5 separate regions of the Homo sapiens genome follow, and all the other regions are reported to be linked to region 1. Evidence: microRNA targets listed by miRTarBase, many of them from high-throughput screens and not tested one by one. Region 1 holds a microRNA gene; each other region holds the end of a gene's coding sequence.

What was found. Region 1 holds the annotated microRNA hsa-miR-3202 (UGGAAGGGAGAAGAGCUUUAAU, at 1,201-1,222, opposite strand). A microRNA usually pairs through its seed, bases 2 to 8, with sites in the 3' UTR of a target mRNA and lowers its output. Matches are read on the target gene's strand: a 7mer-m8 pairs with bases 2 to 8, a 7mer-A1 pairs with bases 2 to 7 and ends in A, and an 8mer does both.
Region 2: miRTarBase lists UBE2Z as a target of hsa-miR-3202. Seed matches in the 3' UTR shown: 7mer-m8 at 720-726 and 7mer-m8 at 751-757.
Region 3: the mRNA of APH1A is a reported target of hsa-miR-3202. The part of its 3' UTR that is shown has no 7-base or 8-base seed match.
Region 4: miRTarBase lists ARRB2 as a target of hsa-miR-3202. Seed matches in the 3' UTR shown: 7mer-m8 at 746-752.
Region 5: the mRNA of GIPC1 is a reported target of hsa-miR-3202. Seed matches in the 3' UTR shown: 7mer-A1 at 774-780.

The regions. Positions count from the first base shown.
Region 1 is chrX:153,978,180-153,982,326 of GRCh38, reverse strand. It overlaps MIR3202-1 (microRNA 3202-1), which reads right to left and starts at 1,230; the gene lies at 1,150-1,230. It overlaps TMEM187 (transmembrane protein 187), which reads right to left. Exons shown (of 2, transcript NM_003492.3): 2 at 1-477. The coding sequence starts at 264. It overlaps MIR3202-2 (microRNA 3202-2), which reads left to right and starts at 1,151; the gene lies at 1,151-1,229. RefSeq lists an enhancer at 1,744-1,853.
Region 2 is chr17:48,926,432-48,930,431 of GRCh38, forward strand. It overlaps UBE2Z (ubiquitin conjugating enzyme E2 Z), which reads left to right. Exons shown (of 7, transcript NM_023079.5): 7 at 533-2,625. The coding sequence ends at 703. It overlaps SNF8 (SNF8 subunit of ESCRT-II), which reads right to left. Exons shown (of 8, transcript NM_007241.4): 8 at 2,885-4,000. Among named protein-coding and RNA genes, the nearest start is that of SNF8, 16 kb to the right of the region's middle.
Region 3 is chr1:150,262,876-150,266,875 of GRCh38, forward strand. APH1A (aph-1A gamma-secretase subunit) reads right to left here. Exons shown (of 7, transcript NM_001077628.3): 6 at 3,658-3,781; 7 at 2,529-3,319. The coding sequence ends at 3,255. It overlaps CA14 (carbonic anhydrase 14), which reads left to right. Exons shown (of 11, transcript NM_012113.3): 7 at 167-324; 8 at 424-544; 9 at 784-804; 10 at 919-1,003; 11 at 1,718-2,203. The coding sequence ends at 1,784. Among named protein-coding and RNA genes, the nearest start is that of SNORD13C, 3.2 kb to the left of the region's middle.
Region 4 is chr17:4,720,391-4,724,390 of GRCh38, forward strand. It overlaps ARRB2 (arrestin beta 2), which reads left to right. Exons shown (of 15, transcript NM_004313.4): 13 at 3-82; 14 at 196-250; 15 at 556-1,107. The coding sequence ends at 649. Among named protein-coding and RNA genes, the nearest start is that of MED11, 9.0 kb to the right of the region's middle.
Region 5 is chr19:14,474,642-14,478,641 of GRCh38, reverse strand. It overlaps GIPC1 (GIPC PDZ domain containing family member 1), which reads left to right. Exons shown (of 9, transcript NM_005716.4): 9 at 75-880. The coding sequence ends at 226. It overlaps PTGER1 (prostaglandin E receptor 1), which reads left to right and starts at 3,288. Exons shown (of 3, transcript NM_000955.3): 1 at 3,288-3,380. RefSeq lists enhancers at 1-295, 2,635-3,303 and a silencer at 1,736-2,218.

The DNA of each region.
Region 1 (4,147 bases):
CACGTCCTTCAGGTAGCGGGGACCCAGCCCCATCGCGCCGCCCCTGTGCAGCCACGACAGCCCCAGCAGCGTGTAGGCCATGTTCACGAGTGAGTTGAACGGCATGGCCAGGAAGGCAGGGAGGCCGGCCACGGGCGCCTCGGCGTAGTGCTCATAGCCCACTTGCACGGAAACACTGTCGAAAATGCCCGTGAACACAGCCACGGCACAGAGGCCACCGGCCACGGCCACGTGCACGAAGGCCTGCCCCCACTCTGGATTCATCTGGAACCGGCGGCGTGACCTGGGGCAGGGAGCTTCAGAGAGCAGCCTTCAATACGCAGCCTCTGCAGAACACTCTGGGCCTCCCGGCTGAGCCAGCAGAAAGAAGCCCCGTGATTTCGTGATTTCCGAGGCAGATGCTGCGACCTTGCCCCGAAGGAAGGCAGGAGTCCTGCTGATTGGCTGGCGCCAGCGGAGGAACGTTCTGCCTTTTTCCTTTGTGGTTACAAAAGGAGTGTGGTTAGAAAACAAACCGTCCCCAGCACCGCCTCCATGTTCCTGACCCCCGGCCTCAGGAGCTACCAACCATCTTCACTGGAGAAGCAAATCAGAGTGAAACCGCTGCACACTGACTCTCTCAAGCCTCTAGAATCCTCTATCACCCCTTTCTCCTGGCACCTAGGAAAATCCTGCCCATCGTCCTAGTTTCCTTAAAGCCACTGCATCTACAGACAAGACCTGTCTAGCTCTGTCATTACAACTCAGAATGCGCCTTCCCATGTCAGTGTGTTATAAAAGTGGACGTCTCCAGCCCCAAAGCCCTTTTCACCAAATACCCAGCTGAACTAGAGACCATTAGATGGAGTCCGAGCTCTGGCCTCTGACACAAGGTGGGGGATGGAGGAGGAGGAGGATTCACCGTCTGCCACTCAAGCACCAGGCCGGGAGGCAAGGGGGTGACCCGCAGGCTTCCCAGGCCAGCTTCCCTGGCTCACTCGCCTGCCCTCTCCTGAAGTGCCAAGCCCCAAATCACCTTCTTTCCTCAGGCCACCATAAAGCCTTCTGTCTCCTTCAGTCACAGAACCAGAGAGACAATTTAATTACCACTGACTGTCAACTGCTTTGGGGCCACTGGTGCTGTAAGTGAGCCCTAGTAGCTGAGAAATACATTAATATGGAAGGGAGAAGAGCTTTAATGCTCTGAAAATGACTCCAATCATTAAAGCTCTTCTCCCTTCCATATTAATAAATTTCGCACTCAAGAGGGTGGGCGGGTAGGCGGGCTCAGGGAGAGAGAAGGGTGGGCTCCAGTTCCTGGTCAGCTGATGCCAGACTGTTCAAACCTTGGCTCTCCCACTTACTAACCATGTGATCTTGCACCTTAACTGTCTTGGGCCTCGGTTTGTGCACCTTTTTTTTTTTTTTTGAGACGGAGTCTCACTCTGTTGCCCAGGCTAGAGTGCAGTGGCACAATCTTGGCTCACTGCAACCTCCGCCTCCCAGGTTCAGGTGATTCTCCTGCCTCAGCCTCCCTAGTAGCGGTGATTAGAGGCGTGTACCACCATGCCCGGCTAACTTTTCTATTTTTAGTAGAGTTGGGGTTTCACCACGTTGGCCAGGCTGGTCTTGAACTCCTGACCTCAAGTGATCCACCCGCCTCAGCCTCCCAAAGTGCTGGGATTCACAGGTATGAGCCACTGTGCCCAGCCCGGTTAGCTCACCTTTGACCTAATCGCTTAGAAGTTCCAGGCCTGGGAGGGATCTTAGAAACCATCTGTGCCAGCCCCGGCATTTCACAGATAAAGAAACTGAAACTCTAGCAGTTTGACTTGGCTGAAAGTTACAGTGAGGAGGAGCAGAAACCCAGGCATGCCGCCTCCTGGCCCCAGGTGCTCTCTGCTCACCTCCCTGGAAGAAGCGCCAGGAGGGCTTCCACGTGGCTTCTTCCTTGCTTTCTGCTGCCATGGCCTGGGTATTTTTATTTAGACACGGGGGTCTTGCTCTGTTGCCCAGGCTGGGGTGCAGTGGCACAATCACAGCTCACTGCAGCCTCCACCTCCTGGGCCCAAGCTATCCTCCTGCCTCAGCCTCCCAAGTAGTTGGGACCAGGGATATACCACCACCTTGCCCTGCTAATTTTTTTTTTTTTTTTTGAGACGGAGTCTTGCTCTGTTGCCCAGGCTGGAGTGCAGTGGTGCGATCTTGGCTCACTGCAAGCTCCATCTCCCGGGTTCACGCCATTCTCCTACCTCAGCCTCCCTACCACAGCGCCCGGCCTGCCCTGCTAATTTTTGTTAAAAAAATTTTGGGCCAGGCATGGTGGCTCATGCCTGTAATCCCAGCACTTTGGGAGGCCAAGGCGGGTGGATCACGAGGTCAGGAGATCGAGAGCATCCTGGCTAACACGGTGAAACCCCGTCTCTACTAAAACAATACAAAAAATAGCCAGGCGTGGTGGTGGGCGCCTGTTGTCCCAGCTACTCGGGAGGCTGAGGCAGGAGAATGGCGTGAACCCTGGAGGCGGAGCTTGCAGTGAGCTGAGATCGCGCCACTGCACTCCAACCTGGGCGACAGAGCGCGACTCCATCTAAAAAAAAAAAAAAAAAAAAATTGTAGAGACAGGGTCTCACCATGTTGCCCAGCCTGGTCTCGAACTCTTGGCCTCAAGTGATCCTCCTGCCTTGGCCTCCCAAAGTCCTGAGATTACAGGAGTGAGCCACTGCACCCAGCTAAACCCCTCTTAAGTTGAAAGTCCAGTTCCTATATTTTCGACTTATGATGGGTTTATCTGGACATTACCCTGTTATACATCAAAAAGCATATGTAGCTGGGCATGGTGGCTCACATCTGTAATCCCAGCAATTTGGAAGGCCAAGGTGAGAGGACTGCTTGAGTCCAGGAGTTTGAGACCAGCCTGGGCAACAAAGTGAGACCCTGTCTCTACACAAAATACATAAAATTAAATTTAAAAAATAAAATAAAAATTAGCCAGGCATGGTGGTGCACCTATAGTCCCAGCTCCTCAGGAGGCTGAGGCAGGAAGATCACTTGAGCCCAGGAGATGGAGGCTGCAGTGAGCTATGGGCCACAGAGCAAGACCCTATCTCTAAAAAAAAAAAAGCTAGGCGCAGTGGCTCACACCTATAATCCTAGCACTTTGGGAGGCCGAGGCAGGTGGATCATCTGAGGTCAGGAGTTTGAGACCAGCCTAGCCAATGTGGTGAAACCCCGTCTCTACCAAAAATACAAAAAAATTAGGCCGGGCACGGTGGCTCACGCCTATAATCCCAACACTTTGGGAGGCAGAGGCGGGTGGATCACTTGAGGTCAGGAGTTCCAGACCAGTCTGGCCAACATGGTGAAACCCTGTCTCTACAAAAATACAAAAAAATTAACCAGGCGTGGTGGCGCACGCCTGTAATCCCAGCTACTTGGGAGGCTGAGACGGGAGAATTGCTTGAACCCAGGAGGCAGAGGTTGCAGTGAGCCAAGATCGTGCCATTGCACTCCAGCCTGGGCGGCAGAGTGAGACTTCATCTCAGAAAAACAAAACAAAACAAAACAAAACAAAACAAAACAAAACAAAACAAAAAATTAGCCAGGTGTGGTGGCACATGCCTATAATCCCAGCTACTCGGGAGGCTGAGGCAGGAGAATCGCTTGAGCCCGGGAGGCGGAGGTTGCAGTGAGCCGAGATCACGCCACTGCACTCCAGCCTGGGCAACAAGAGCGAAACTCCCTCTCCCCCCCAAAAAAAAAAAAAAAAAAAAAAAAAGTGGCCAGGCGTGGTGGCTCACGTCTGTAATCCCAGCACTCTGGGTGGCTGAGGTGGGTGGATCAGTTGAGGTCAAGAGTTCAAGACCACCCTGGCCAATATGGTGAAACCCCATCTCTACTAAAATACAAAAATTAGCCAGGCGTGATGGCTCATGCCTGTAGTTCCAGCTACTTGGGAGGCTGAGGCAGGAGAATCGCTCAAACCTGGGAGGCGGAGGTTGCAGTGAGCCAAGATCGTGCCACTGCACTCCAGCCTGGGCGACAGAATGAGACTCCGTCTCAAAAAAAAAAAAAGTATCTGTATATGCAGACCACTTAGCACTATTTTATTATTACTTCATTTTATTTTGTTTTTTTGAGACAGACTCTTGCTCTGTCGCCCAGGCTG
Region 2 (4,000 bases), not on the chromosome of region 1:
CACTCTAGCCCAAGCTACACCTATTTGGGGCGGTAAGAGTGTCTTTTTTTTTTTTTTTTTTGAGACCAAGTTTTACTCTTGTTGCCCAGGCTGGAGTGTAATGGTGCGATCTCGATCTCAGCTGACTGCAACCTCCGCCTCCCGGGTTCAAGTGATTCTCCTGCCTCAGCCTCCCGAGTAGCTGGGATTACAGGCATGCGCCACGACACCCGGCTAATTTTGCATTTTTAGTAGAGACAGGGTTTCACCATGTTGGTCAGGCTGGTCTCAAACTCCCAACCTCAGGTGATCCGCCCGCCTCGGCCGCCCAAAGTGCTGGGATTACAGGTGTGAGCCACCGCGCCTGGCCCAGGTGTCATATTTTTAAGCAAAGGTTATTTTGCCTGCTGTTTGGGACTGCCTGTGCTGTTAGGCCTTCCTGCTCCCATGGCTCAGAAGTTGAGCTTTCATTTCACATGGGCCCGAAGTTGCTTTCTCTAGGATCAGCCACCCAGACTTGAATCTTCCATCCCCTTGTCTCCTTTCCCCACAGGACCCTTTTGGAGAGAAGCGGGGCCACTTTGACTACCAGTCCCTCTTGATGCGCCTGGGACTGATACGTCAGAAAGTGCTGGAGAGGCTCCATAATGAGAATGCAGAAATGGACTCTGATAGCAGTTCATCTGGGACAGAGACAGACCTTCATGGGAGCCTGAGGGTTTAGACCCTGCTCCCATCTCCCCTTCCCCCACTCAAGAGTCCCAGCAGAATCCCTTCCCCCCACCCCAGGGATGGAGAGGCACTGTGTATCTCCCTCCAGACTCGAAGTCATCCTGCAAGATGGCAAGAACCAAGCAAGCTCCGATCCCAGGGTGTGGGAGTGGGGGCCTGTTCCCGGTCTGACCTCCTTGGCACTGGAGCATCTGGGGCTTCGTTCATCCATTCATCCCGTATCAGGGGCCAAGGTACCTTTACAGGAGCACCTAGAGCGAGGGCCTTTGGCAAAAACAAAACAACCAACACACCTCTCCACAGGGCCAGCTCCTTAGGGATAAGTGGAAGATGGAAATTGCAATTCCAAGAGGGAGTGTGCCCAAATGATTTATGGGGATACCTGGAAGGGAGCTTGGGGTGGGGGCTGTCTGTGACACTTAAGCAGTCTGGGTGGTTGTCTATTTGTCTGTCTTCAGTCTTGAAGCAGGGCTTCCCAATGCCCTTTTCCTCCCTGCCTTCCTTCCCCCATTATTTCCCACAGGCCAGCATAATTTTGTTTTTCCTAATTTATAGTCACTGTTCTAGACAGACCAAAGAGAAGGAACAGTGGTGGAGTCTAGGCTGCTGATCAGTAAGCTTTACCTAGCACCTGAGCACCTTTCTCCCCTCCCCTCTTTCCTCACCCTTTTCTAGATGTAAGACAGAAAGTAAATGTGACTGGGACTTAACCAAGGTCTTGGTAAAGCCTGCATGGCACCGTAAGAAGCTGAAAATACTGTTTGTTCCCGCAATCACTGATTTGAAAAGTTCCCAACACAGGCAGCTGCTGTGTATATGGGATTAGAGCCACTACATAGAATAGTCTCTTACAGATTTTCATAAATACTAGTCACAATAAGGGTATTTTTCTTGGGGGTGGAGTAAGGGGGAGACTGATGCTAGTCCTTGTTGTATTTTGTTGGGCTGTCCTTGTGTATTTTCACCCCAGCCTGTAGTCCTCCTCACTTCAACCCCAGGGATTTTTGGGGAGCAAGGGTAGCCAATGGCAGAGGGGGTTGGGGCTGGGACTCTGGAGGCTCCTCCCCTTCTTTCTCTTCCTTCCGCCTCCCCCGTGCCCCCAGCTGCTCTTGTCACTGTCTCTGATGGGTATTTGCCTGGCTTTGTTGCTTCTCTATCTGTATTTAGCTGCAGTGATCCTTTAGCTGGTTGGCTCAGAAAAAAAAAAATGTGCTTTAGGTGCCCTGTAATCCTGGGCATCAAGGGAATCCATCCTTCCCCTTTTTGATATGTTCTCCCCGTACTTCCAGATTTATTGTTATGGCTCCCAGTGGGTATTGGCGATTCTTGTGATGCAGGGCCTCAGTCAGTGTCCAGCCATGCATAAGGGAGAGGATAGTGTGTACCTGCCCTGCCCTCTGCTATGAAGGTCTCTGCCTTGTGGATCATGGGACTCCCCTTGGAGGATCTGTGCAAAGGGGGGCTGGGCACAAAGGAGAATGTCCTATTTGGGAGGGCAGGAAGCAAAGGAACTGGACAGGGATTGGTGGGCTTGGGGAACGGAAGTTTATCTTGGATACCCTTGAAGAGGCTGGGTCTCTTCACATGAAGATCGAAAAGGGACCCTGCTTCCAATTTCCCTCTTCCATTCCTCGAGCTACTCCAGGGCTTAGAAGAATGCTCTTGGTCTGTGGGTCCAGTGTTGTCTGTCATCCATTTAAGTGTTCCCACTTTCAAGTGACAATCCTCTCCTTGGCCCTGCCATAGGGCAGAGCATGTCTGGCATAGCAGCCTGACTTTTATGCCCTAATCTTGAGTTGAGGAAATATATGCACAGGAGTCAAAGAGATGTCTTTATATCTGACTGTATATAAATGAAGTTTTTTTGTTTTTTTTGTTTTCCTTTTTGGTGCAATAAAGTTTGTTTTGGCAGAAGGAGGAAGTGCCTGTGGGTGTGGGAGGGCTTGTGTAAAGGACGAATGGGATCATCTTGTCAACCACACCTCACCTAGGCCTGGAACTGTTAGGGAGAAGGAAAGTGCCATGAATTGTCTGGAAACCGAAGACTTGCATAACATGGTGGAAGGGCAGGGCTGGGTGGGGAGAGCAGGACAAGTTTTCTCATTGGAAATGGGGTCCATGCTCTGGCAGTCAGTGACATCTTAGTTTGAGTGGTTTCCAAAGACAGACCTATTCCAGAGCTTGGAGTGAGCATGTCCTACAAGGATAGGCAGAGGAAGAGATGGGCCCAGGCTATATCCTGCTAAAGGAAGGGTCTCAGTATGGAAAAACCATTGAGTTTTCAGATTTCCAGTACTAAACTAGCACTTTTAGGATCTTAGCCTTTAGACCATAAGGACTTTGGGAGCCTTAAACAACTCTGGCCTCTTCCCTCATCACCACTTCTACTTGCTATAGGAGATTCTTGCTTTCTGATGCAGAGGCTTTTACTCTTGGCTGACCACGTGTGTAGAAAAATGTCTACACACAGTATGTGCTGCCATTCTGTACTATGCAGTGATACATGAAGGCATGGGCTCGGGTTAATAGGCCTAGGCACCAGCTTTAGCTCGGCTGAAGCTGGCGGCCCCTGGCAAATTACTTTGATTGAATCACCTGTGATGTTGAAGGCTGCCTACTTGGTGAAATTTAAGTGAGCTGTATGTAAAATGGCACAGGGTAGGTGTTCAGTAAATGACTCCCTTTCCCACTACTGAGGCTAGAGGGACCTGGCAATCACTACAGGAGGGTGAGAAAGCTAGTAGGGAATTTAAGAAAATAGAACATTCCCTAACTATTGTTTGATTCCCCTCAGATTCCATTGTTTTCTTTCCTCCAATTTAGCCACGATTGGACATTGACTTCTATTTCCTTCATACTCACAGCTAACTCTGTCATAACCTAGAGCCTCTACAGAGGAAGCCAGAAGAGACTGAAAGTGAATATTATTTACTGGTCCATTAGGACCAGCTAGTTTGAGATAAGGAACATTTTATTTAAAAGGTTTGAATTAGCATAGGCTGTAATCTATGTCTCACAGCTACAAAGACTAGACAGGCCAGGAAACAACCCACATTCTAGGCCCAGCTCTTCCATGAACTTGCAGATGACCTACAAAAATCATTTTATATGTGCTTGCCGTTCTCTGTGTTAATCAGATTATGCTTACTGAACGAGCGAGGTTTTCCTCCAATAAAAATGCAACGTGAAGGCACTTTTCAAAAATAAAAGAATGAGGGAAGAAAGAAAAACTTGGAACTTTTTTTCTATTTTTTGTATAAACAAAATTGCCCAGGTTTATTTGCCACCT
Region 3 (4,000 bases), not on the chromosome of region 1:
CCTTAAAAATCTATAGCAGGAAGTAAGATTAGACTTTCAAAAACTATCCTTAAAAGCCTTGGGATGAAGCAATTACATAGAGCCAAGGAATTTTGCTTCTGGGAGCCCTATCTAGGTAAGCTAGGGCACACTGAAAGGAAGATGAGTCCCAGTCTGTTCTCCCCAGATCAGAAGACCTCAGTGCCTCCCTTCAACCTAAGAGAGCTGCTCCCCAAACAGCTGGGGCAGTACTTCCGCTACAATGGCTCGCTCACAACTCCCCCTTGCTACCAGAGTGTGCTCTGGACAGTTTTTTATAGAAGGTCCCAGATTTCAATGGAACAGGTAAGTGGTGGAGAAACGAGGTGAGGTGAGACACAGTTGTAACTTCAGACCCCTTCCCACTCCCCAAAGTAACACCTCTCCCACGCTTCTGCTCCTCAGCTGGAAAAGCTTCAGGGGACATTGTTCTCCACAGAAGAGGAGCCCTCTAAGCTTCTGGTACAGAACTACCGAGCCCTTCAGCCTCTCAATCAGCGCATGGTCTTTGCTTCTTTCATCCAAGGTGATTCTGCACGGCTCAGAAGAGATGGGAAACTGAGGGGGACACAATGGCAGGAACTAGGGAGCCAATGGGAAGAAAAGGCTAAAAGGGGAGGGGGTTTCTGGGACTTGCTTGGACTGGGAACCAACCCCCACCCCAGGGTGCCCCCGGGGGATTCTCCCAGGCACAGCAGCAGAGAGTGCTGCTCCCAGCTGGGATGGGGATCTGAAGTCCCACTGACCCATTTTCTTCTCTTACAGCAGGATCCTCGTATACCACAGGTAAGCCAGCCTTATAAGATAATGCGGGGAGGGGAGGTGTCCTCACCGAGTGGGGGAAAGGCTCAAAATCTATGTTAGTCCTAGGCTGACACCTTTTACCTTTATCTCCCCCAGGTGAAATGCTGAGTCTAGGTGTAGGAATCTTGGTTGGCTGTCTCTGCCTTCTCCTGGCTGTTTATTTCATTGCTAGAAAGATTCGGTGAGGCCCTACTTTCCATTCCTCCAGTCCCTTCTTCTTTTTTTTTTTTTTTTTGGTAGGTGGGAGACGGAGTCTTGCTCTGTTACTCAGTCTGGAGTGCAGTGGTGTGCAATCTCAGCTCACTGCAACCTCTGCCTTCTGGGTTCAAGCAATTCTCCTGCCTCAGCCTCCCGAGTAGCTGGGACTACAGGCACGCACCATCACACCCAGCTAATTTTTGTACTTTTAGTAGAGACAAGGTTTCACCATATTGGCCAGGCTGGTCTCAAACTCCTGACCTCAGGCAATTCGCCTGCCTCAGCCTCCCAAAGTACTGGGATTATAGGCATGAGCCACCCGCTTTTTGAGACAGGTTCTCACTGTTGTCGAGGCTGGAGTGCATGGCTTTATCACAGCTCACTGCAACCTCCACCTCCCGGGCTCAAGTGGTCCTCCCACCTCAGCCTCCTGAGTAGGTGGGACTACAGGCATGTGCCACCATGCCCAGATAATTTTTGTATTTTTAGCAGAGACGGGTTTTCACTACATTGCCCAGGCTGGTCTCCAACTCCTGACCTCAAGTGATCCGCCCGCCTCAGCCTCCCAAAGTGCTGGGATTATAGGTGTGAAACACCTTGCCCAGCCCTCTTTTCTGTTAAAAAGCATTCTCCTATTTCACCTCTAATCTGCTTCACTTAGATAGCAGTCATTCTCATGAGCCATTCCCCTTTCCAGGAAGAAGAGGCTGGAAAACCGAAAGAGTGTGGTCTTCACCTCAGCACAAGCCACGACTGAGGCATAAATTCCTTCTCAGATACCATGGATGTGGATGACTTCCCTTCATGCCTATCAGGAAGCCTCTAAAATGGGGTGTAGGATCTGGCCAGAAACACTGTAGGAGTAGTAAGCAGATGTCCTCCTTCCCCTGGACATCTCCTAGAGAGGAATGGACCCAGGCTGTCATTCCAGGAAGAACTGCAGAGCCTTCAGCCTCTCCAAACATGTAGGAGGAAATGAGGAAATCGCTGTGTTGTTAATGCAGAGAACAAACTCTGTTTAGTTGCAGGGGAAGTTTGGGATATACCCCAAAGTCCTCTACCCCCTCACTTTTATGGCCCTTTCCCTAGATATACTGCGGGATCTCTCCTTAGGATAAAGAGTTGCTGTTGAAGTTGTATATTTTTGATCAATATATTTGGAAATTAAAGTTTCTGACTTTAATTCTGGCCTATCCTTTGAGGCTCTTGAGGGTGGGCAAGTTCCTGAATCCCTCAGGTGGTAAAGATGGGCAAAGGATGGGGAAAAGAAGCATGGGTGATTAACTCCTTTTATCCCACCCCTGGAAGGAAAGATAAGCTTCTGGGAAGACACTTAACCCAAAGTTTCAGACATGTTAAACCACTAGCCCAGATTTCTGCCCTTGCACCAAGGCTATGCTTGGAAATCAGTGGTTGCCAGGTTAGGAAAGTGGCTGGATGAGAGATCTGAGGACAGAAATCTCAATTAACATGCTATCCCCTCCCTTAAAAGCCAAGTTCCCCCACAATTACAAATTCTTTTTTATTAGTCAAAATCACAATCACCTTGATTAAAAGGATGGGACACTCCACCCTCAGCAGAAAATGATACAGTTTATAGAAAACCTCCCCGCCCCTCCCACACCCCAATTAAAAACTACAAAAAAATCTCCCCTCCTTCCCTACGATGTCATGGTAGTCTGACTCCTCCAGTGGCACTGCAGCTCTGGAGTGGCCAGCTCACCACAGCACCCTCCACTTCACCTTGGGGAGAGGAGGGATGCTGGTGGTTAAGGAGGTTAAAACCATTAGTTCCAGTAATGCCAGTTCCCAAACATGCACTTCCTTCCTTTCCCCCAAGGTCTGGGACCAAGGAGAAAGGGACCGAAATGAGCCCAGCCATGAGGAGCAACTCGAGGAGAGAAAATATAGCCCAAGGAGGTTAGAAGAGTTCCAATATACCTCCTCCCTCCCCCCACCTCAAAAAAGAAAAAAAGGCAGTTTAGGGTATTTATCACACCAAAAATGGTTCCCCCTCAGGCCTGAGAAAAAGACCAAGATGTCCAGTCTTGAGGGAGTACTGAGAAACTCAGAGCTCATCTATCCTTGAGCCTCCATTAATTTCATCTCCAGGGCAATGGCTAAACTAGGTCCCTTTTCTTGGCAACCTGCACTGTCCAGAACTGGAGATGGAGAAATACAGGGCGAGGACATCAGGAGGGCACCCCAGGCCCAGGGGTCCCCCCTAGGTTCCCTCAGTCCTCGGGTGGGATGCGCAGGGCAGAATACACCATCACCCGACTGTCCTCCTGCCGTCGGCCTGCAGAGGGGAAGGGAGGTGAGTCTTGGGCAGGGTGAGAGCAGAGCACTGACACAGGGGGAGTCCTGGACACAACAAGGGGGTCCCCAGGTGGTGGGGATAAGTGCAGATTCAAACCCACCAGTCACTGACTGGCTGAACCCAGGCTGCTCCTGGTAAAGCTTAGAGACTAACGGTCACAAAAGGACAAAGCAAAACCCTGGAGGTAGTGGGGTAGACCGACGAGAAGGAGACAGAGAATGTGGGCAATGGACCCGGGCTGGGGCTGGGCTCAGTCATGGGCAGTGGACAGGCAGGTGGGATCTGTCAGGCGATCAGTCCAGGTAGTCAGTCCTTACACAAGAGGCTGCGCTGAATACTTCGGAGGGACCCTCCAGCTGTGATGAAGGCCCAGAGCCCCATGGAAACAGTGACTGCATAGATGGGCAGCAGGCTGGCCTCATACCAGGGGTTCAGGAATGTCTAGGAAGGAGGGTAAGAGTAGGAAAGAGATTAGATTCTCCCTCGACCTAATCCCCATATTCTCTCTGTACCTTTCTGACTCCCAGATATCTCTCTCAAATTCTCCAGTCTTTCCCTTCAGAGCACCAACATCTTGTGGTTAAGGGGACTTTTGATTTTCAGCTCCTCAGAAACTCAAAGGTTTCTGCCGCTCCTGCTCACCTCAGGCCCTCTGCATTA
Region 4 (4,000 bases), not on the chromosome of region 1:
AGGGATGTCTCTGTGGAGCTGCCTTTTGTTCTTATGCACCCCAAGCCCCACGACCACATCCCCCTCCCCAGACCCCAGTCAGGTGAGCACACTACCCACCCCAAGCCCTCAGAGGGAGGGCCTGAAGCAGGGCCAGTGGAGGAAAACTGGCCCTTCCAGCACCCACCCCCACACCCCCTCTTCCCGTCCCCCCAGCCGCTCCGGAGACAGATGTCCCTGTGGACACCAACCTCATTGAATTTGATACCAAGTAAGAAACTCATTCCCCTACTTGACCCTCTTGGGACAAAGATTCCTATAACATTCAAATCTGCCCTCATACCTCTTCCTTGCTTTTGGTGGGGAGAAGCGGATTGTAGCATCAAATCAAGATGCCTTAGCCTTGTGAGGCTGCCTCTTGCTGCCTTTTCTTTGTCCCTTCCTGTAAATACCTCTGGTCCCACTGCTGTTCGAACGCCTCTGTCCCAGAGGCCTAGCTTCGGGGAGGGCAGGGAGTGGGAGGCTGGGACAAGAGTCAGAAGCCCTCACCTCACAACCCTCTTTCCCACCACCAAGCTATGCCACAGATGATGACATTGTGTTTGAGGACTTTGCCCGGCTTCGGCTGAAGGGGATGAAGGATGACGACTATGATGATCAACTCTGCTAGGAAGCGGGGTGGGAAGAAGGGAGGGGATGGGGTTGGGAGAGGTGAGGGCAGGATTAAGATCCCCACTGTCAATGGGGGATTGTCCCAGCCCCTCTTCCCTTCCCCTCACCTGGAAGCTTCTTCAACCAATCCCTTCACACTCTCTCCCCCATCCCCCCAAGATACACACTGGACCCTCTCTTGCTGAATGTGGGCATTAATTTTTTGACTGCAGCTCTGCTTCTCCAGCCCCGCCGTGGGTGGCAAGCTGTGTTCATACCTAAATTTTCTGGAAGGGGACAGTGAAAAGAGGAGTGACAGGAGGGAAAGGGGGAGACAAAACTCCTACTCTCAACCTCACACCAACACCTCCCATTATCACTCTCTCTGCCCCCATTCCTTCAAGAGGAGACCCTTTGGGGACAAGGCCGTTTCTTTGTTTCTGAGCATAAAGAAGAAAATAAATCTTTTACTAAGCATGAGTGTGTGTTTTCTCTGTAGTGTTTAGAGAGTGTATGGTGTGCTTATCCATGATTCTGTTAGCTTGTGGGGGAGGACCCAGTCTCTCTTCTGCACCCAAAAGCCACCTGACACGGAGGCTATCAGCAAATGTTTATTGGATGACTGTGCTGTGGCTGTGTTCCAGGGTAAACATCAAAACTTGACTTAGTCCAAACTCAAGGGTGAGGCTTGATAAGGCCACAAAGTGAACTTAGTCATTTCTAGAGGTCACAGTAACTAAACTAACTCGCCTGCACACAGATGCTCACGGGAGCTAGCCAGGGCAGGCCCTTCCCTGTTGCGGCCGACGCACATGACCACCTGTGACCTGTTGTGACCGAGTCGCGTTCATTTCCACTGCTCCTTATGGCTGCTCGAGCCATCTGCTCCTGTGGCTCAGCGGTGCCACAACCGCAGGCCTCACCAGACAAGCCACGTGACGTCTCTGGAGTCTGGTACCTACATTCTAACACAGAAGCTGAGGCTTGGGCAGCAAGAACGTCATGCTGCCGTGGGCCCCTGTCCTAGGGACCACATCTTAGTGCTGTTCATGGGATATTCATCAGGGACTCCCTGAGGCTTGACCGAAGCCCCAGGCTGGGCTGGAGGGAGGTAGCATCACTCCACGAACATTTCTCACCTCCATCATCTGCTTCCACTCCTGAAGCCCAATCTTTCTCCTAAAGCTCCTTCATGCATTCCACAAACAATCTGGATTTGAGTCCCTACAAAGTACCAGGCATAGTATAGCAGTACAACAACAACAACAACAACAAAAACACATTAATTCATTCCCTTTTTTTTTTTTTTCTTTTGAGACAGAGTCTTGCTCTGTCGTCCAGGCTGGAGTGCAATGGTGCCATCTCGGCTCACTGTAACCTCCGCCTCCCAGGTACAAGTGATTCTCCTGCCTCAGCCTCCGGAGTAGCTGGGATTACAGGCGCCCGCCACAACTCCCGGCTAATTTTTGTATTTTTAGTGGAGATGGGGTTTCGCCATGTTGGTCAGGCTGTTCTCAAACTCCTCACCTCAAGTGGTCCACCCGCCTCGGCCTCCCAAAGTGCTGGGATTACAGGTGTGAGCCACCGCGCCAGGCCTCCCTAGTTATTTAACTACAATATCTTTGCTTCAGAGGAGAAGTACTGGAGCCAGGAGAACGCGTGACAGGGAGTTCTGAGCTAGGTTGGGTTTGGGGAAGATTTCCCTGAGAAAGTGACCTTTAAGCAGAGAAGTGAAAGATGAGGGGAGTTCGGGGACCGTCCAGGGATGAGCATTCTGGGCAATGGCAGTGTCGTGTGAAGGCAGGAGGAAACAACACATCTGGGACCTAAAGAGGCCAGAGAGACTGGGACAGAGACAGCCAGAGGCAAAGTAGTTCCTTCTGGCTGCTGAGCCAGATGGGGACAGCTCGCACAGGCCTTTAGTCTATGTTATGACTCGTGACTTCTAGTTAAATCGCCATTTACCCACAAGCTTTAAGTACTGCCAAAAGGCCCGTGACCTTGCTTACCCCGCCACGGCGGCAGCCTCCCCTGCAGAACCTGGACTTTCTCATGCGGAAGAACGGAAGAACCATCCCGCCTAATACCATCTCCAGCATCCCTCCGACTCCCGTGCACCTGCTCCTTGACCTCTAAGCCCAGGTATCTCAATTTTTTTTTTTTTTTTTTTGAGATGGAGTCTTGCTTTCTCACCCAGGCTGGAATGCAATGGTGCTATCTTGGCTCACTGCAACCTCTGCCTCCCAGGTTCAAGCAATTCTTCTGCCTCAGCTTCCCGAGTAACTGGGACTACAGGCACACGCCACCACGCCTGGCTAATTTTTGTATTTTTAGTAAAGACAAGGTTTCGCCATACTGGCCAGGCTGGTCTCGAACTCCTGACCTCCTGATCCGCCCACCTTGGCCCCCCAAAGTGCTGGGATTACAGGCGTGAGCCACCGCGCCTGGCCGATCTCAAATTTTTTTCAGGAGAATCAGAACCCTCGGGGTGCCATGGTAAAAATCCAGAGTTGGGCTCCACCTTTCCCGATTCTGAGTCACAAGGTCCCAAGAAGAATCCAAAAATCCGGATTTTTAATTAGTACACACTTTGAGAAACTGCCCTTTTTATTTATTTAATTAACTTATTTATTATTATCTTTTTTTGAGATGGAGTCTCACTTTGTCACCCAGGCTGGAGTGGAATGGCGCAATCTCAGCTCACTGCAACCTCCGCCTCCCGGGTTCAAGCCGTTCTCCTGCCTCAGCCTCCCGAGTAGCTGGGATTACAGGCACGTGCCACCATGCCTGGCTAATTTTTGTATTTTTATAGAGCCAAGGTCTCGCCATTGCACTCCAGCCTGGGCGACAAGAGCAAAACTCTCTCTCAATAAATAAATAAATAGTCTAATTCAATGGCATTTAGTATACTCACAATGTTGTACAACAATCCCCTCTGTCTACTTCCAAACATTTGGCTTCCTGTATTTTCAATAACAGATAAATTTTTTTAAATTGTCTTTCTTAAGGCCGGGCGCAGTGGCTCACACCTGTGATTTGTAATCCCAGCACTTTGGGAAGCCGAGGCGGGTGGATCGCCTGAGGTCAGGAGTTCGAGAACAGCCTGGCCAACATAGTGACACCCCGTCTCTACTAAAAATACAAAAAATTAGCTGAGCATGGTGGCGGGCGCCAGTAATCCCAGCTACTCGGGAGGCTGAGGCAGGAGAATCACTTGAACCCTGGAGGTGGAGGTTGCAGTGAGCTGAGATTGTGCCACTGCACTCCAGCCTGGGCAACAAGAACAAAACTCCATCTCAGAAAAAAAAAAAAATTCTTTTTGCTTTTTAGGTTCATACACTAGGAAAATTTTTTATATTTATTTTCATGT
Region 5 (4,000 bases), not on the chromosome of region 1:
GGGGGCCGAATCCACCCTGAGCCCCTTGGTCCCTGGTGTCATTTGTGCCTCCGTTCTGACCCCTCCCCCAATAGCGGCCACCATGGTGGAGCTGGGAAAGGACAAAAGGAACCCGGATGAGCTGGCCGAGGCCCTGGACGAACGGCTGGGTGACTTTGCCTTCCCTGACGAGTTCGTCTTTGACGTCTGGGGCGCCATTGGGGACGCCAAGGTCGGCCGCTACTAGGACTGCCCCCGGACCCTGCGATGATGACCCGGGCGCAACCTGGTGGGGGCCCCCAGCAGGGACACTGACGTCAGGACCCGAGCCTCCAGCCTGAGCCTAGCTCAGCAGCCCAAGGACGATGGTGAGGGGAGGTGGGGCCAGGCCCCCTGCCCCGCTCCAATCGGTACCATCCCCTCCCTGGTTCCCAGTCTGGCCGGGGTCCCCGGCCCCCCTGTGCCCTGTTCCCCACCTACCTCAGCTGGGTCAGGCACAGGGAGGGGAGGGATCAGCCAAATTGGGCGGCCACCCCCGCCTCCACCACTTTCCACCATCAGCTGCCAAACTGGTCCCTCTGTCTCCCTGGGGCCTTGGGTTCTGTTTGGGGGTCATGACCTTCCTAGTTTCCTGACGCAGGGAATACAGGGGAGAGGGTTGTCCTTCCCCCCAGCAAATGCAATAATGCCCTCACCCCTCCTGAGAGGAGCCCCCTCCCTGTGGAGCCTGTTACCTCCGCATTTGACACGAGTCTGCTGTGAACCCCGCAACCTCCTCCCCACCTCCCATCTCTCCTTCCAGGCCCATCCCTGGCCCAGAGCAGGAGGGAGGGAGGGACGATGGCGGTGGGTTTTTGTATCTGAATTTGCTGTCTTGAACATAAAGAATCTATCTGCTGTTGGACCTGTGTGGCTTCGGGGTGGGAGAGGGGGAAGATTGGGGCTGAGAAAGAATTCAGCAGCTGAAATCCATCTTCCGCAGGCTCCAAATTGAATTAGGAGCTGGCACCAAGCCACCTGCCCCCTCCCACTGTTCCTTCTGGCTGCAGGCCACCAGGCTTCCAGGCAGGGCCAGAGCTTCCTGGACTACTGAGGGTTCAAATCCTGCCCCCTCTCCCACAAGGCCTCCTACCCCCTGGAGCTTCACAAGGCTGCTGTCTGCAGCTGGTGACAACCCCCGGACCGTGGGGAGCACCAGGGCATTGAAACCTGGCTTGGAAATAGAAAGATGGAACCTCAGGCCTGCCAGAGCCCCACCCCTACACCGGGAGGTTGGGGGCAGGCGTGAGGCAGCCCCCACCCCACCCGGCCCAATGCTGGACACGCAGGCGTCCATGGGGCACCCTGCTTTGTCCTAGACATAAACCCAGCATACTTGTTTTGACAACCCACTCATCTTCGAGGATTGAGGGTGATCAGGGAAAGGCGGGGTGGGACCCTGGCCAGACCTGGAGGGAAGGGAAGGGATTGAAGCAAGGGGCGCTGGGCCAGAAGGCCCCACAGGAATGCTTGGGGGTGAGCCGAGAGGCTGTGGGGAAGTCCGAGGCCAGCTTGCAATCCTCGTTCCAAAAGGCGGGCGGGCACTGGGCCACCAGGAAGAGGGGAAGGGGGAAAAGGGGAAGACCCTGGGGGCTGGGTGTTGGTGGACAGACCCGGGTGGAGTCGGGGAGCCGCAGTCCTGGTGACTCAGGGCATCCCCGGGCACCTGTGGGCTCCTCAGGTGTCTGTGCTGGGAGCCGCTTGCGGTGGTGAAGGGGTGTGGCTATGTGTGTCTCGGGTGTTGGGTAGCACTGTGAGTCTATCAAGAGTGTTGATGGCTCGTGACGCAATGAGGGAGGGCTGTGTCGTGGGTAAGGGATGTGATAACCGGCTCTGTGTTCCAGGGCAATTGCAGGTGTAACTGGCAGTGTCTGGTGGTGGGGAGTGCAACGGAGTGACTGTGTCTTGGGGTGTCCCGGGGTGTGGGGGTGTGTGTCTTAGGGTGCTGTTTCTGGGGCAAGGAGGGGTGCTTGGCTAGGCCTTGGGGTGTTCAGGGGTGTCAGGGTATGTCTCGGGGTGTTGCTGTTTCCTGGGTGGGGGTGCTGGCTAGGTCTAGGGGTCTCTAGGGGTGCAGGTGTGTGTGTCTCAGGGCGTTGCTGTTTCTGGGTGAGGGTGGGGGTGGCCAGCTAGGTCTCTGGTGTCCAGCGGCGGGGGGTGTCACTTCTTGTGCCTTGGGTGTACGGAGTGTGCTGGTGGGGCCTGTCTGGGATTGTTGAGGGGTCATTGAAAGTCAAACAGAGTGTGGTCAGGGGCAGTTTTGGCAATAAGGAGTGTGTGTGCGTGTGTGTATCTCTCGGGGTGCCAAGTGAGACCCTATTTCCCAGCACTAAGGAGGGTGGTTCGGGTGATCATCTCAGAGGGCTGCATTTTGGGGTGTTGGGAGGGGCTGGAATTGAGGCAGTAACTCTGGGTGCGTCCCGGCGCTGGGGGTAAGACCCTGAGTTCAGGGATGTGGCGGCAGCAACCTGGCTGTGCTGAGATGGGGACAGGATGAAACTGAGTGGTAAGTGACAGGATTGTATGTCTTAGGGTGTGAGGCTGTGCCAGTGTGACCCTACTTCTCAGGGCAGGAGGCGAGTCTTTGTGTCTTAGGACGTGTGTCACAGGTGTCACTCAGCCCATCTTAAAGGAGCCAGTCACTGGGGAGAGTCCCCAGGTCGCCAGGCCTCCTGGTTCCCCTGCCCCCTTTCAGCCTCCTCCCAGGATATGACTCGCTGTGGCCCTAGCCGGGGCTTAAGCCCCTGTATAAATAGGCGGATCCCCTGGCCAGGCTGGGCCTGACCCAAGCTGGTCTACCCGAGGCCCTGCCCACCAGCACCCACCCCGACATCCACGAAGGCTTTGGCAGGGCAGGGGGGGCATTGCTGGCCCCACAGAATTGGAGTTAGCCTCTCTAGCTCCAAAGCCCCAGGGAGGGGGGCAGTGGCACCCCCTGCAGCTGCCCCAGCCCGCCCCAGACGACGCTCACATTTTCCAGTGTTTAGATTTTATCCGCTTTATTAATGAGGCAAGAGGCCCGATCCTGGGGGGGAAGGGGGCTGCTCCCGCCCTGCTGGGAGGAGGGGGTCACATGGGGCCAGACCAACTCCAGGGAGCCTCACTCCTCGTGGAGGGAGCCGCTGGGGCCCAGAGTGGCCCCCGCCCATTGCCAGGAGCAGAGAGGGGGGTCTCTGCCACTCCAGGCCCCCAGCGGGCGTGCGCGGGGTGGAGCGGCCCCTGGAGGCCAGCAAGGGCGGCGGGAGGAGCTGAGGAGCCGCCCCAGGAAGAGGGAGGGAGGAAGCGGCTTGCCGGAGAGCCAGGGCGCAGTGGGCGGCAGGGCTGAGCGGCCGGTGATGGGGACCCCACATCCCAGGCAGTGCCGGGTAAGGGGGTTGCACATGAGGGTCCCTGATTGGGGAGGAGGAGGGCATGAAGGGGTGGGGCCATGGCCACCTGCTGTCCGTCCTGTGTCCCCGGGCTCTTCTCCCTGATCTGTGCGTCCCTGTCTTACCGTCTGTCCATCCTCCCTTCCCATCTGGCCTGGTGGGCAGTTCCGCCCTTTCAGCCCTCACCACCAGGATATCAAAGAGTGGATGGTCGTGGGGCCGCCTCCAGGCCTCTGGGGCAGGGATATGGAGTGGAACCGTGGGCACCCAGGGTGAGGCAGAGGTGATCGGGGTAGGGCCTGGCGAGAGACCGCAGTGGAGCAGAGGCAGGTCCATGGGGCAGGGGCAGAGATGGGTCCATGGCACAGATGTGGCTGTGCCATGTGGGGTCAGAGATGGGTCCATGGGGGACAGGGACATGGCCGTGGGGAGAGATGTGCCCGTGGTGGTAGAGATGGGGCTGGGGCATCGAGGATGGGACTGGAGTAAAGCTGACATGGGGAAAGTCAGGTAGGGCCACAGTGGCAGAAATGGGTGAGAGCTATCAGATGGAGCCACAGGCCCCAGGAATTTGCTGGGTGTAAAAATGGAAGGTGGGGGTCGGAGGCACTGGCAGA